Regions from separate parts of the Homo sapiens genome. Here region 2 is linked to region 1. Evidence: fine-mapped expression QTL. A gene starts in region 1. The other region holds a variant in brackets. All regions are shown on one strand. Distances are from middle to middle. Region 1 holds the start of SP4 (Sp4 transcription factor). Region 2 overlaps SP4 (Sp4 transcription factor).

The links. PIP is the estimated chance that this variant, and not a neighbour inherited with it, causes the effect.
Region 2: its variant is fine-mapped to the expression of SP4 in CD4 T cells (Kasela 2017, PIP 0.95). The same link has a PIP of 0.9 or more in NK cells.

The regions. Positions count from the first base shown.
Region 1 is chr7:21,423,204-21,431,541 of GRCh38, reverse strand. It overlaps SP4 (Sp4 transcription factor), which reads right to left and starts at 3,459. Exons shown (of 6, transcript NM_003112.5): 1 at 3,284-3,459; 2 at 2,750-2,865; 3 at 699-2,253. The coding sequence starts at 3,290. RefSeq lists silencers at 3,166-3,755, 4,136-4,525.
Region 2 is chr7:21,510,575-21,518,912 of GRCh38, reverse strand. SP4 (Sp4 transcription factor) reads right to left here. Exons shown (of 6, transcript NM_003112.5): 6 at 4,091-7,891. The coding sequence ends at 7,644. Among named protein-coding and RNA genes, the nearest start is that of DNAH11, 28 kb to the left of the region's middle. The variant C/A (reference allele first, on the strand shown) is at 4,383.

The DNA.
Region 1 (8,338 bases):
CTTTCCACCAACCTTACATTAAACATCTACAAATCACACAATGACCATGATTTAATTAAATATAATTTTATAAATGAAGGATTATTCATTCAAATCCTGATAGTAGCATAAAAGTAGGCATAAAAGTTAACCAAACAATTTACAACTTAAAATTATCTCTCAACTGCATCAGTATCTAGTTTAAAACCAGTGTAATAAAACACAAAAGCATGGGCGACAAGATGCTGAAGCTTGAGAAATAACTTCCACTAAAAAAAAGTTAGCCTTATTACACCACAGAATTAAAAGTTCAACAGACTCACAATTATATATACCAATTCAGTTTAAAACTACTTTCCCTCAAAGAAGAGATAAATATCATTTCGACTAGGGTTCTTTCTGAAGAGCTGGAATGTACTCAAATAAGACCACTAAATTACAGAAGGCAATTATGATTCTAATCAGAAAGCTCTGTCCCATAAAACAATACTTTTTAAAAAACTAACAAATTTAACACATTATTATAAAATCTACAAAAGTGAACATGTCACATTGATTACTACAGAGCTATGTTTGTTAGTATAATATTGCTATTTCTGGTTCCTTATGATTGTGTGTTTACTTCAGAGGTCTACGTCAAACCTTAGAATTAGGAGAGAAAAGCAATAATTGTTATGAAAAACTATTTAAAAGGTACTTAAAAAGATGTCAGAACTTACCTGCAACACTAGTGATTGTAACGGGAACTCCCTGCACTTGAACACCTGCAGCACCCAGGTTGGCAACGCTCACTGTCTGAAGGTTAGGCACTGATGCAAGCTGGGCAGTATTCAAAGTTATTGGGGCACCAGCAACAGCCACAGGAGCAATCTGAGCAAGAGTTGTGCCACCACTTGAAGACACTGGGGTGATGGTTAATTGTTGGGATAACCCAGCATTCTGAACTTGCAAATTTGAAAGACTCTGAATATTCTGAACCTGTACAGTTTGCCAACTGATTTGCCCTGAAGGTGTTAAAGTTGGAGCCCTGATAAGCACCTGAGTCGGATTTACTGCTTGAAGTTGAACATTCTGTAAAGGCTGCTGCTGGATGGTCTGAATCGTCTGCCCTGACTGGAGTTGAAACGACTGTGGTGGAATAGCCTGAATGATCTGTTGCTGAGGCTGTTGGATCTGGATCTGCTGTAAGATAGGTTGGCCTACAATTTGCACCTGCTGAAGAGAATTTGATTGATCCTGTGCATTCTGCATTCCATTAGGCTGAAGCTGACTGGAGCTCTGGGCTTCAGACTCAGTAGCAGCAGGTGTTTGAGATTCTTCAATGGTGCGTTCAGAACTACTGGCTGATGTGCTTGCATACTGGCCAGTATCTGCTGAGCTCACTAATGTGTCACTGCTTGTCAAAGACGTTGAAGCAGTGGTTGTGCAGGTAGTGGAGGAGGAGGGAGATTCTGGCATAGTACTGGCAGAAGTAGTGGTGTTGGTGGGTGTGGAAACTAATTGATTCCCATTGGAAGTCCCACTATCAGCAGTAGCAGCAGGCTGGCCAACCTGCCCAGTCCCTCCTCCGGCAGCCACGTTGTTTATCACTGGCAAAGCTAGAGTCACTCCTCCAATGTTAATTGGTAGGGTTGTTACAACTTGAGCCTGAGTACCAGGAAGAGTCTGTAACTGCAGTGGTATTGAAACACCAGGTCTAATTTGGACCGGAACTGTCTGATTTGCCAGGTTTTGAGCAAGAATATTCCCAGAAGCTGTCCTGTTAGCAGCTGTGAGTATAGCTTGATTATTACCTGCAGAAATGAGCTGAATTTGACCCTGCAAATCCTGTAGAGATGAACTACTAGTTGGATTGATTTGAATTTGTTGACCTTCCACTGTCTGAAGTTGTGGAATTACTTGGTACTGTACACTACCACTTGGATTTTGTACTTGTATGACTTGAAATTGACCAGGGGTGGAAGAATTACCTGATTTAGTTTTTGTAGGAGATGCACTCCCGTTATTACTGCTGGAAGAACTAGACGAACTAGAGGCTGGTTGAGAAACGTTATTCTCTTTTGAAGCAGGAGGAGTGGAGGCAACAAGTTGCCAAGCGTTTCCAGCAAGTTGCGTTGTTACCAGTTCTAGCTGTTGTGGTTGATTTTGAAGTTGCACCAATCCTTGACTTGGATCTATAATAATTTGTTGTTGTCCAGTTGCTTGATTTTCACCAGGAGTCCCTATTTTGCTGCAAGTAGCTGCCAGTAAAGCCAGAGGAGAGGGCTGAGAGTCCTACCCAAAATGGGACGGTAAAGGAGAGGGGGGGGGGAAAAAAAGTGGGCGGATTTAGTGGAGGCCAGTAGTTGCCAGGGGGTTACTTATTTTGACAGCTCTACATAACAATTTAGGAAGCAGCAGAAATCAAAAAGAAATACGAACAAAAGTAGATAAGAACTATATGAATAAGGAAGCAAGTCCTATAATATCAAGTTTAAATAAAAGGAAATTTCTTTACAACTTTGTAAAGTGTTATGTTCCTAAACTCAAAATGCCCTTGGGAACACACACACCGTTTTCTTATAGTCTGAATTCCTGATGTAATTTTAAACAGCGTTATACCCTCAAAGAGGTGAAAACTTGATGAATTTACAATTTAAGTTCCACACTCTCAGAAAGATGCTTTGAGTGGATAAACATTTTATTCTGTTACTTCTGGACATTCAAAGGGCATAACTCCCTCTCTCTCCTAATGTGTCGTGATGAATTTTTTTAATTTGTTTGCTTTTACCTGGGAGCCTGAGGTTTTGGGTTTTTTATTGTTATTCTCTGGCTCAGAGGTTTTCCCTCCTTCTGTAGCCATCGCCGCTGCCGCTGCCGCCTCCTCCTCCTCCTCCTTCTTCTGATCTGCAACAAACCCCCCCACCACACACACACGACAACAGGTTATTAGGATTATTATTATTCGTCTTCTTCCTCTCCTCTTCTCCCCCCTCCCCCCGAACATTAATCTCCATAAACCCGCGATCCACGCACACCGGCAGGGGGTGGGGGAGAAGGAGGGAAGGGAGGAGGGGGATATCACAAAACGTGGTTTGAAACCCGACCCATCGGCTCCAGAGCAACACCCAGAAGGAGGTTGTTCTCTCTCAGACATTAAGACAAAACACAACCCTCCTTCCCTCCCCGATTCCCTCCCGCCCTCTCCTCCTCCCCTTAAAGCATCTCAGCGGCCCCGGGGGAGGGGGGAGAACCGAGCAGGGTCTGGGGAGGGAGGGAGAGAGGGAGGCGGCGAAGGAGACTGAGGGGGGTGGAGAATACGTACCGCTCATCCCGCATTAACAGGACAAACCCTCAGACGGAGACACTGGGATAGAGGTGGGTGGGGGTGGGGGCGAGGCGGGAGGAGAGGCCGGTCCCGCCCGCCCGCGGTGGCTCGGAGGAGGCTGTAGCTGGCACAGGCTCTGCCTCTTTTTCCGCGAATGGCCGCCGCTGGGCTGTGGCGTAGCAGCTCCTCTCTCCGCCCGAGCCCGGCTGACTCGCCCTTGATTGACAGCGGCGGCGCGCGGCGCGGGCGGCGGCGCGGGTCGGGGGCGGGGCCAGGGCGGTGCGAGCCTGGCCGACTCCCCACCCCCCTCGGCCTCTCTCCGCCGGAGCCTCCGACTCTCCACCCCTTCCCCCAGCGGATTGGCCGCCGACCTGCCGGGGGCCGGGGCGCTGGGGCCGCCTCCTCTCCACCCCCTTTCTCGGGGTTATTCCTTTAGCAGCTCTTCTCCTCCTCCCTGGCTCCTCTGGCGCTCTTTCTCTCGGCGTTCTAGCTCAGGAGCGCTGCCGGTAGGCCCTCCATACAGCCAAACTTGTTGTCTCAGGATATCCCGCCCCCTACTCATTTCCCAGCGCCCTCCACTCAAAAACCCCCTCCAGCAATCCCTCCAATTGCCACTAAAGAAAAAAGTAGGGCCCTTGATCCAGGCAAGCGAGAGCGGCGGACGTGGGCGCGCGCGGACCACCAACAGGTCGGCGCGCTGGGTGAACTGCCCGCTGCCCCCGCGCAGGGAGCATGGCTTTCCTGAGGCGCATCCGGACCCGGGCGCCCTTTTTCCCTGGCTCTGTCTCCATTGGCTGAGCCCAGGGTGACGCGCGCTGAGTGGTGGGAGAAAGGGGGTGGGGCACTACCGCGAAGGCTGTCGGTACTCGTAGTTTCCGGCGGTCGCGGTGCCTTCTTCGAGGCACCGCCTCTCTCCCGCCCCCGACCGAGGCCTGGCTGCCGAGCGGAAAGCTGCCCGAGGGGGCGGTGGCGGCAGGGCGTGGCCGGGGCCGAGTGGGAGTTGAACTGAGCGAGGAGGAGGGGGAATGGGTGTTGTTTGCCTGGGCCTATCCGCCGCGCGGGGCTGCCCAAACCACCTCTGCCGCCGCCTCCTCGGCTCCAAGCCGCTCCCCGCGGGGCGAGCTCACACCCGGAGCGCTCGGCGATTGAGCGGGCGGCGGCGTGGGGAGGCGGGGTTTGCTGTCCTCGGGGTTTGAATGAACCCGGCTTCTTGAAGCAGCGCCCTCGCCTTGCCTTTCTTTGCTCACCTTCCCCTCAGGCCCCCTGCTTTGAGTCCGAGGCCTGTTTTCTCACGGAGAAGGATCTTCCATTTTTATTTGTTGTCTCTCTGGCTGGCAGCTGGTGCAGAGCAGTGACCCGCCTTCTAAGAAGGGTTGCATCGCGTTTTGCCTAAAAGCCTAAGTGGTTGGCGGAGTTCTAAGCCTTATCTGACAAGAGTCTCCGGGCGAAGAAAAGCCCAGCTCCATAAGGGTCAGCCCCGCTTACGGTGTAGCGTAAGCAAGCGTAAGGGCAAGTGGAATTAACATCTGGCTGCACAAAGCATCTTACTGTCAAATGCACTTGAGCAGTGTCCTGCCTCAGCTTTCCTACAAAGTCCTGAAGTCAGGATGATGCCATGGAACGTAATCAGCGCCTGATTAACTGTACCAAAGGTGGAAGTGACCCCACATGTAAATACTGGCCTTGGGAACAAGGCATGCTTACACCCCAGGCTCAAAGCCATTGTCTCACTTCTTACCTGGGCTTCACACTCAGCCTTGGGCATTTTTGTCTCCTGCCTGAGGCCTGACATGTTGCAATGGTGAGGAGGTCCCAGATGCTGAACTTGACTGGCATTTCCTTTGCTTGTTAAGGTAATTGCAAAATCAGCTGATGACAAAGCCATGCAGCAAGACAAAGCAATTCGAATAAAGAATTACATGGTATTGTCTACCCCATCTTATACAATGAGCCAGAGATCCCTGAACAACGTGCTTTTTCCCCATCGTGTACAATATAGAAAGCTCAAAAGTGCTTCTTACATTTACGTATATACTGTCTCTATCCTCAGGTCCCCTCCTCCTCCCAGTTCACCAAGATAAATGAAGACATTTTGCAGTCTTATGAATTGGGGCTTTCATTGTCGTTTTCGTTTGGAAAACCTGCTTCAGAGAGGCAATGTCACTGACTCTGAACCATAGATTAAAAATAATGCTTCGGGAGGCCGAGGCGGGTGGATCAGGGGGTCAGGAGTTTGCGACCAGTCTGGCCAACATAGTGAAACCTTGTCTCTACTAAAAATACAAAAAATTAGCCAGGTGTGGTGGTGTGCGCCTGTAATCCCAGCTACTCGCGAGGCTGAGGCAGGAGAATCGCGTGAACCCGGGAGGTGGAGGTTGCAGTGAGCTGAGATCACGCCATTGCACTCCAACCCCGGGCGACAGTGCAAGACTCCGTCTCAAAAAATATATAATAATAATAATAATGCTTACCATCAGTATGAATCTGCAAAGTCCTAAATATTCTCCACCCTATAGATAAGTGGGAATACTGGTATCCATGAAACATAAGTCCTGCTTTTTATGGTGGACCAAAGTCTTCTAGTCCCTGGCTGTTATGGACTGAATGTTTGTGTTCTCTGCCCCCTTCCCCATTCATGTGTTGAAATTCTACACGGGGCGCGGCTCACTCCTGTTATCCCAGCTCTTTGGGAGGCCAAGGCGGGCGGATCACTTGAGCCCAGCAGTTCCAGACCAGTTTAGGCAACATGGTGAAACCCAGGCTCTACAAAAATTAGCCGACGTGGTGGCGCTGTCCTGTAGTCCCAGCTTCTTGTGAGGCTGAGGCGGGAGGATCACTTGAGCCCAGAAGGCGGAGGTTGCATTGGGCCAAGATGGCACCAGTGCACTCCAACCTGGGCAACAGAGTGGGACTGTGTCAAAAAAAAAAAAAAAAAAAAGAAAGAAAAAAAAAGGGAGAGAGGGGAAAGGGAGGGAGGAAGGAAGGAAGGAAAAATTCTACCCCTTAGTGTGATGGTATTAGAAATTAGAAGGTAGGGTCTCTGGGAGATAATTAGGATTAAATTTGGAGTCCTCATGAATGAGATTGGTGACCTTAGAAGAATCAGGAAAGAGCTTGCTTTTCCTTCCTCTGCTCTCTTCTATTTGAAGATAACAACCAAAAGTCCTCAGTGTGATACCCGGTGGAAAGCGAGTTTTGCTAGGGAGGTAATATTGACAAAGACTCTCTCCTTTGACCAAACTTTAATCTGGTTATTCTAAGTCCTCTTTCTGACTAGGTCCTGACCTGGAACTCTGTCCTTAGTTTAGTGGCTTTGTTCATTTAGTCCAGTTTTAGCAAGAATCCTGCTGGGTTGGTTGGGTAAAAACGCCTCACCCTTAATATTTGACCATACTTGGTATCTCATCAAATTCCTTATCCCCTGTTCTCGATATCTTAGCACCCTGGCCTGCCTTCAGCAATAACCCCATTAAATTGGTTTAGCCAGAATCCTCCTTTATTCTGGAAATTTCCCCTTAGTAATTTTCCATCCACTGACTCCATCCTGCTCCTTGGCTTCAGATCTCTAGTTGTCTTTGTATTCATAGTTGAGCCCAATCTCTCTCTCCCACTGCAAGACCCCATTGGATAGTCTCTCCTTGACTAAAGTCTTTATTGCTGTCTTTAACAAGTATCCTGAATTATTTTTTTCTTCAACATTGTAAATATAAATTCAACAAAATACTCGGCCTCAGGCCTGCGAGGGTGGTCTTTTCCCTGAGGAAGCAGTCTAAAAACATTCCTTCCTATGCTCATTATTGCCTAGAAAACAGTGGCTTTCAAACTTTTAAAAAAATTATGACCCACAGAAATAAATATATTTTACATCATGGCTGGCCCAGTGTGTACTTTTTAAAAATTTATGACCCTGGGCCAGGCGCGGTGGCTTATGCCTGTAATCCCGGCACTTTGGGAGCCCAAGGTGGGCAAATCGCTTGAGTTCAGGAGTTCAAGACTAGCCTGGGTGAATCACTTGAGGTCAGGAGTTAAAGACCAGCCTGGCCAACATAGTGAAGTCCCATCTCTACTAAAAATACAAAAATTAGCCAGCCGTGGTGGCAAGTGCCTCGGGAGGCTGAGGCAGGAGAATCCCTTGAACCTGGGAGTCAGGGGCTGCAGTGAGCCGGGTGCTATAGTGAGCCGGGTGCTATAGTGAGCCGAGATCATGCCACTGCACTCCAGCCTGGGCGACAGAACAAGACTCCGTCTCAAAAAATAAAAAAAGGAATAAGTATATTTTACATATGGCCCAGTGTGTACACACACAGAGGAAATCAGCATTTGTATGTGAAATATTTAATGACACTAAGCACTGACCATTCAGCTCAAACACGTCCATAAAGCTGAAATAGTGTCCTAGAGGTAGAAGTCCTCTGCCACGAATTATCCTTGTAGTTGTGGAATTGAGAGATCCAGAGGGTTGGGGAACAATGAGGGGACTTGCCAAGGAGGGGACTTGGACACTAGTTCATGGCATAAATGAGAAAAAGGGACTGTATTTGAGTGTCTCTTTTAGGAAGTTTCTTTTTTTTTTTTTTTTTTGAGACGAAGTCTTGTTCTTGTTCCCCAGGCTGGAGTGCAATGGTGTGATCTTGGCTCACTGCAACCTCCGCCTCCCAGGTTCAAGTGATTCTCCTGCCTCAGTCTCCCAAGTAGCTGGGATTATAGGTGGCTGCCACCATGCCTGGCTAATTTTTGTGTTTTTAGAGAGATGGGGTTTCACCATGTTGGTCAGGCTGGTCTCGATCTCCTGACCTCACGTGATCCACCAGCTTCGGCCTCCCGAAGTGCTGAGATTACAGGTGTGAGCCACTGCCCCCAGCCAGGAAGCTACTCTTTAAATAACTGTTAAGCTGCTTCATTTTTTTTTTCTTTTTTTTTTTTTCCTAGCACCCTCCGAAAGTTATACAAATCATTTTGTATTTGGGAAGCAGATAGCAAAGATTTGGAGAGACCATAAACCAGAGAATAGTCAAAGCTTAACGTCCACCTTTGCTCAAAAGTGTATTAACT
Region 2 (8,338 bases), 87 kb before region 1:
TTAAAGTGGTAACTGTTTACAGTATTACTGAATTGGGTTGGAATCTTTTTTCAGTTAGCTTATTCTTTGCCATTAGATTATTTTCCTCAACAGTGATTTTCAGACTTGTTAAGGTGACCAAATACTTGGAAGCCATAATGCCCTTCACACAGCACCATGATTTACTGATGTATTTAATTCCAGCATAACATTATACAAGCAAGGAACAATTTTACCAGCAGAAAATATAACGTTATTATGTTTCCACATCTAAACATCTAAAAAATACTACTACTATAAATAAAATATTTATGAAACCACAATTCATAGCAGGATAATAAATAACAAAATTTGAACCAAGCCAACCACCTAGAAAGACATGATTCAAAGACAAACTGGCGTTTATGACAACTGCTCGTTTAATTTTCTCCTGTTCCCTATAATTTGCTTTTGTCTGATCTTAACACCCACATCTGATTTCTTAAGTCTCTGACCCTGACTTGAAACCTGTTAACTTGCTTCAGATTACCTGAGCCTCGGCTCCTCCCCGTAGATATGGTCTCAATAGACTCCAGTATCTCTGCAACTGCTGGCCTGCCCATTCCTAGGCATAGGGTAAATGGATCTCAAGGAGCTCCAGAAATCCAGCTGAGGTTGGGATGCAAGAAGGCAGAGTTAGCATAGAAAAGAAAAACAGCATCCCTTGTGCCTGAATCTGACACACAGTAAGTGCTCCATAAATGTATTAATTGGAAAAAGCATCTCCAACAAAGGTAAGCTTGGGAATGAGCAGAGCAACTCAGAGTTAAGAACAGGATCTGAAGCAAAGGTAAGAGTTAAATGGGCAAGAAGGCTGTAACTGGACAACTGAAGCTACAGCCAGCAGAGATGCCTCAGCCTTGCAGGGCATTATAAGTTTAGACATTTATTCTATATCCTATCTTATTTCACAAAGAATCTAAAAAGCAAAGTAAAAGTAGAGCATCCTATTATCCTTTTCTGAACCAAGTCTGAGAGGAAGTTGTCTAAGAAACTTTTGAACTCCACATTCCATGTTTTCTTTTTTTGGCTGCAATTTGGTAGGTAGCTGAAAAGAGGGGTACATTTGCCCTGTATGCCTGGGTTTATTTAACACATATATTTCTAAATATAGAGAATGCTTTTAAATATAGAAAATCATCCACACATAAACCCACAAAAGTTAGTGAACAACACATGAGCAGCTGTTTCTGTTTTTCAGTAATTGGTTTGCTTCTTGTTCACCGGTGTGCTTGTCTGTTATCACTTTGAGGTAGGCAAACAGTAATTGTAATTAACATTTAAAAATTAGGAATTAGGCCAGGCGCAGTGGCTCATGCTCGTAATTCCAGCACTTTGGGAGGTGGAGGCAGGCGGATCGCTTGAGCCCAGGACCAGCTGGGCATGGTGGTGTGTGCCTGGGTGACAGAGTGAGACCTTGGCTCAAGGGGGGGGGGGGAAGAAAGTAACTAAGATTTAAACCTTTTATTTTTCTTAGAATTGGAAAAAGACTGTCATAAAATTTTGAGGTAGAGTATGGCAAAGTAGCTCACAGTTTGAGAAAAATATGTTTGAATTTGGAAATTCCCACTGAAATTTCATTTTTAAAATGGGATTTGAGAATTAACTTTTTGATGTATTGTTGCCCATTTTCAAGACATTTCAGCATTGGTCCAGGTGGGAACTATTCCATGCCCCCTGCTATGGTCTGAGCAGTTGTGCCCCCCAAAAATTCATGTTGAAACCCAATTACCAATAATATTACCAGTGATATTAAGAGGTGGAACCTTTGAAAAATGATTAGATCATGACAGTAGAGCTCTCATGAATGGGATTAGCGTCATTACAAAAGAGGCCCCAGAAAGTTGTCTTGTCCCTTTCACCATGTGAAGACACAGCTAGAAGTCACCATCTATGAACCAGTAAATGAACACTGAATCTGCCAGAATCTTGACCTTGGACTTCCTAGCTCCGAAGTGAGAAATAAATTTCTGTTGTTTATAAGCTACCTAGTCTAGTTTATCTTGTTATAGCAGCCCGAATGGACTAAGACACCCGTCTGCCTTTTGGGTTAACTTATAATTAACAATAATAACGTATTAAACACAACTATGTGTTACTCAATATAGTTTTCTTGTTTGATCTTAACAGACCTATGTATTATTCATAATGCTTAACATTAATAAGCATTGCTCTTTTATTCTATGAAGTAGAAAAAAATAAGTGCTTAAAAGTTCAATAACTTGCCCACGGTTGTGTGCCTACTAAGTGGCTGAACCAGGAATCCAGCCTGAAATCCTCAGACTCTCCGTTGATCTCTTTTGGCACGGTGCTTAGCTATTAACCAGGGAGATCAACCCACTGCATTATAAATAGGCCTTTATGCTCCTTTTCCTTTCCTTTCTCTCTTCCTTCCTTCCACTATTTCTGCTTGACATTACTCTCAGGTATCCAAAAATAAATTATTTCATTGCCACCTGTTACTAAGAGGAACAGAGCCCAAGGTTTATGCTAATCAGCCAATCTTAAAAGAATGGAAAATACATGCCTTAAAAGTCCTGCTACCGAATTACAAGTTGGTTGTGTGTATATTAAGCAGACATTACTGTTCAGGCAGTAAATATAGCAATATATTATTCAGTTTCACAAAGGAATAAAGTATTTCAAGTTTGCTGTGACACTTGAAGTCTCTGCACCCCTGAAATTAAGCATCTGAACTTTTAATTAAAAAATAAACAATACTGTATATTTTTCTATTTTCAAGTTGTCATTACCAATGGCATTGTAAACCACACCCTATTAGTATTGCTTTTAGCACTGCTTCAGCTTTCCTAACTTACTACACCAACAGCTTTTGTCAATTTTCAAGGTGATTTATCCCTTTTTCTTTATTATTGTCTTTTTCATGTGGCTGAAATTTCTAGAAGTACAAGAAGCAAACTATATTAAAAATTGAAAAACACAATGACATTTTCTAATTGCATTATCCTTTTTTTTGAGACAAGAGACTCGCTCTGTTGCCGAGGCTGGAGTGCAGTGGCGTGATCTCAGCTCACTGCAAACTCCACCTCCTGGGTTCAAGCAATTCTGCCTCAGCCTCCCGAGTAGCTGGGACTACAGGCGCACGCCACCACGCCCGGCTAATTTTTGTATTTTTAGTAGAGATGGGGTTTCACCATGTTGGCCAGGCTGGTCTTGAACTCCTGACCTCGTGATCCACCCACCTCAGCCTCCCAAAGCTCCGGGGTTACAGGCGTGAGCCACCTCGCCTGGCCTGCATTATCCCCTTTTATACGATATCATCCTGATGCTTTCTAATGCGAATTTTTCAGGTAATTGAAGTGTATCTTTACTTTGGATAGAAAACATCCTTTGACAATTCCTTACTGTCTTATTTGACAGAGTAGCATAAATTCTTTGATTCAGTCAGTGTTATGAACACATTATTTTACAAAGTTGTAACACAACTATGCCTTTAGGACCTTGCTGTACAAGGTTCTCTGTCCAAACACCTTGTAGCCCCTGCTTACTACCTAAAACCTAGAGTCTTTGGAGTCTTCTGTCAGTGGGCCAGCGTACTTCTCTTGCTGCCTAACATCCTACCTCCGCCACCCTGGGCCAAACCCTCGCTTTGCTATGTCTATATCTGGTGTGAGTCTGGAAATGTGTTAGCTGAAGTTGTTACAATAATGTATTCATTATGTTACTAAAGGTCTTCATGAGATTTGCAGGGCTCTCCCAGGAGGAAGACAGTTTCTGCTTGTAGTCTTTGTGGCATCTATGTGGCCTATATTGCTTCTCAGTGATTCTGTGAGCTTAAATAATATTTTAATTATGTTTTTCGTTTTCAGGTCTTCCTATAATTTCCTAACATTGATTGCTTAAAATATTTAAGTAAAAAGTGTCTCTAAATCAAATTTTAATTTCCATAAATGTCTAGAGCAATGGCTACAAATTAACATGCAATTTGAATTGGAGTTCTTTGGCGGTATGTTCAGAGAAATGGTGACCAGATCTCAATACGAGGAATTACGAACGGTGGCCAATGTGTTCTCCAGTGAGAAGCATTTAACTCTCCAGTGTTCATGATAAGTAGGTTGATAGTTCAAATAATTTATTGCTGCTTTATAGTATACATAATTAAATGAAACATGTTAAACTCAAGGGAATTTTTAATAGGTTACTTGCAATTGTTATTGCAGGCAACAACTTGTACATGATTTTATTTCCAAATCCACAAAAAACAAATTTTATACAAATCAGCACTGTAAAAATGTCAATTACAGCCCCAGAGGCTTTGCTGGCAGAATAATTGTCTAAATTCTAGAATATGGGAAACAGGTTTTTTTCTGGATTCATCTTTTTTTTTCATTTTTTTTTTTTTA[C/A]AAAAAAAATTTACAAGTGAAATGTTACTACAAAACTTTTTATAAGGAATTTTTGCAAAACATTTACATTTTACCATCAACTATTTCTGTTTTAAAATCATTATGTAGATTTAATACCCTATGCTGCACATCAATTTATGTGGGATGACAACTTAGTGACATGCATAAAAAAACACCACAAGGCATTAAAATGGAGACTTAAATACAAATATTGTTGCAATAAAACAGTTATAAAATTGAAAAATAGGACCTAAACATCATGCTTATCTAAGTTTGACAAATTAACTTTTTCTCCTAGATTACACACTTTTATTACTGCTCTCATGAGAGTGTGATAAATGACTTAACATCAAGTTCTAATGTAATCAGCAACACATACACAAACCTAACCAAAGAAAGTATACTGTAAGAAAAAACTATTCTAACACTGGAGTTTTACCATGATAAATACATAGCTTTGCACTGATAATTACAATAAAGAAAAGTTTTATAACGGTGGTAAAGGGAATGAACAGTGAAATGCCATTAAACAAGACTCTACTGCACATCTGTGCCCTATTACTTATAACAGCTATATCCCACTGAGTCAAATAAAGGACACTGAAATTTACGATTCTTCTAAAGACAGAAAAGTAGACTCAGAATGGTATGCAGAACAGACTGTCAAAATATTTCTAATTTCAGTGGTGAAATGTGCACCTGCTAACACAAATTAACATATTTTATATGCTATAAAGCTATCTAGATTCATCTGATAAATTTATAATAGGCCTCATTGTTGATTAAAAAATAACTTCCATTTCTAATGGACATACATAGGTTTGCATTAGAACTGGTTCATGGAATAATGATGCAGAGTGTTCATACTTGGTATTAACAACAACAAAAAGTGTCACTCTGAGGAAACATGATTAAAACATTAAGAAAGTTTCTTTGCATAAAAAAATTTATAGCACTGATTGTGTAGCATAATGATAGATAAAATATATATTTGATGTTTCAGCTCCTATATAATAAAATTAAAATGAACACTACCAAATGCTCCTCTGTACCAAACAAAACAACAAACCAATTCTGATGTTTTAAAGCCAGATACATCAGTTGTTAAGAGTACATTAAATAAAATATACAAAACAATTTACAAAATCCAACTTAAATTTAAAGACTCTGTTACAAGTCTACAAAAGCTTTAAGAAACTTGAAATTTATAACCACAGTGTAAAAATTTTTTTTTTCCTTTAATCTCAAAGCTTTTTTATACAAACTGAAAGCACAAAAGACCTTCAGTTTTATATAACGCTACAAAGGGCTGGCCTAAAGTGTACATAGTGTAAACAGTGATCATTACAGTATTTCTCCTTCATCAAAAATACAAGAAACATCACAATTTTGGAAGAGAATTCGCATTAGTACTTTTCCTGAAATTATAGAGAATGCACAAGAAAACACGTACCTATATTCAAACAGTCCCCAAAGCAATGATGTTAATAAATTGAGCAGGTAGGTAAAAACTTTTAGTTTTCAAATGGTCAATTTCACTGATTATGATTCTGTGTAAATACTTTTTTAAAACATAAAATATCCTTATTAATATTTAAGTTACTGGTTTATAATCCAATTTTTTTCATATGAAACTTTTGGCCATCTTTCCTAGTAAGACCCTTTCCTAGCCGGGCATGGTGGCTCATGCCTGTAATCCCAGCACTCTGGGAGGCCGAGGTGGGCAGATCACCTGAGGTCAGGAGTTTGAAACCAGCCTGGCCAACATGGCGAAACCCTGTCTCTACTAAAAATACAAAAATTAGCCAGGCATGGTGGCAGGCGCCTGTTAATCCCAGCTACTCAGGAGGCTAAGACAGGAGAATCGCTTGAACCTGGGAGGCGGCGGTTGCAGTAAGCTGAGATCGTGCCATTGCACTCCAGCCTGGGCAAGAGAGCGAGACTCCATCTCAAAAAAAAAAAAAAAAAGACCCTTTCCTGTAAGACCCTTGCATAAACAATAATATAGTTTTTTTCTTTAGTCACTTACTTCACTGAAAATTATTCTGCCTTTTCAAAAATAAAAGTTTTGCTTCATAATATATCTATTATATATTAGGCTAATTTTTAGGGAAAATTCAGTTATTGATGTAACATAAAAACATTACTGTGTTATAATTCCTAATTACCTTCTTACATAGCACTAGAAATAAAATGGGACTGGCCAATTTTTAGTAGAGGAAAACAAGAATTACAATGTAGTTAAAAGAGAATTTTCTGCTGGCCTTGGAAAAAAGTGTAATTCTTTCTTTGGCTACCACATCAAAGCATAAAGAATTCTGCACATTGTCAACATAACTCATATTTACAAAATATGAAACTACAGAACAATTTACACTCTATGCAAATATTTCCAAATATAAACATTTTAAATGAAATTTTGTGGTTCAACCTAGGGTTAGGAATATAATCAATCCTAACTTTAGAACATTGCATGTTAAGATGCCTCATTTTATTTTTCTGAAGCTATGATGAGTTTTGTTTTAACCATTTTTTTCCCAGCATTTTCCTAAGGTGTCAACCTAAAATTTAACCTAAGATTTAACTCTATGTTCCTCTTGTGTCTCCAAATGGAGAAAGTAATTGGACTTCACTGATTGTCTGCATACACACTACTATAATGTAGTGGTAATAAAGATCTGAGATGCATCTCAGATTACTGTTTTGGAACTTACCTAATTCAACTGTTGAAGAATTTCTAACATTTAGAAAAGACGGCCAAACTATTTTCGGTTGATTTTCCAAAAATCAAGCTAAGGAAATACAGTATTATCCCTATCATCAGTTAACTATCTGTTTTCTGTGCTATAGAGAAAAAGAATACACGTAAATTATTACTGACTGAATTTATAACAAAGTACTTTCAAAGAAAATAAGTCCAATTAAGGTCCAGCCTGCAAACTACTAAGGTCTTTTTAAACATGTTAACACATGATATTAAGAGATGGGAAGATTCTGTATAAAGGTTATGTGATATATTTCCAAACAACTACAACTTATAGTATGGAGGAAATACTTTTCTGTTTCCAGTACATCAGTCTGCTTTTTGTATTTTTTAAAATTCAACACTTCACGTGTTGACCCCAAACCCTGGAATACTTAAAGAAGCCAAGAATGAAAACATAATTTCCTACTCTGTAATCCACTTGACCAGCCCATTTCCAGATTTTCAAAGGTGTGTAAACAAGTGCAGCACTAGAGGTCTCTGTTATAAATAACTTTTCAGAATTCTTCCATGTTGGTTGAAACATTGGGAGTTGCTGGATTCGAATCTTGAGAAATGGCTGCAACTGTGACAATTCTTGGGGAGCCAAGCACCTCTGTAACAGATGAGTCCAGTTCTCCCGAGGTAACAATGGCAAGAGCTGTCCCACCACCTTTTTTATTCTGGTGCGTTTTGACATGTTTGGAGAGATGATCACTCCGCATAAACCTTTTAGAACATTCCGGGCATTCAAATCTCTTTTCACCTACATAGAAAAACAGTAAATGGCGTTATACACATTTTGCTTAAGTGAAATTATAATTTTTAATAATCTCCCTTCTGGTCACATTATATGACTTTTTGTACAGTTTCACTAGTTGCAAAATGCTTTGTTTTATTTAAAAACGTTATCAAATACACAATGCAAAGAGAAAGACCATGTGATTGAGACGAAAAGACCTGAAGTTTAAGTCCTGCTTCTGCTATGAACTGGAAATAAAAGCTGGAGCAAGTAAATAGCCACTGGAACTCTCAGTTTTCCCATCTACAAAGCAAGAGGGTTTTTAGCAGACAATTTAAAATATCTCTATCAGATGTAACAAATATATATAATGTTCAAGGCTCATGTCCACTCTTCTTCAAAACTGCTAACCTGGGTTTTAGTTTTAATCTTGGAGGCATGAAATATCTTGGAACTATTTCAAATAAACTA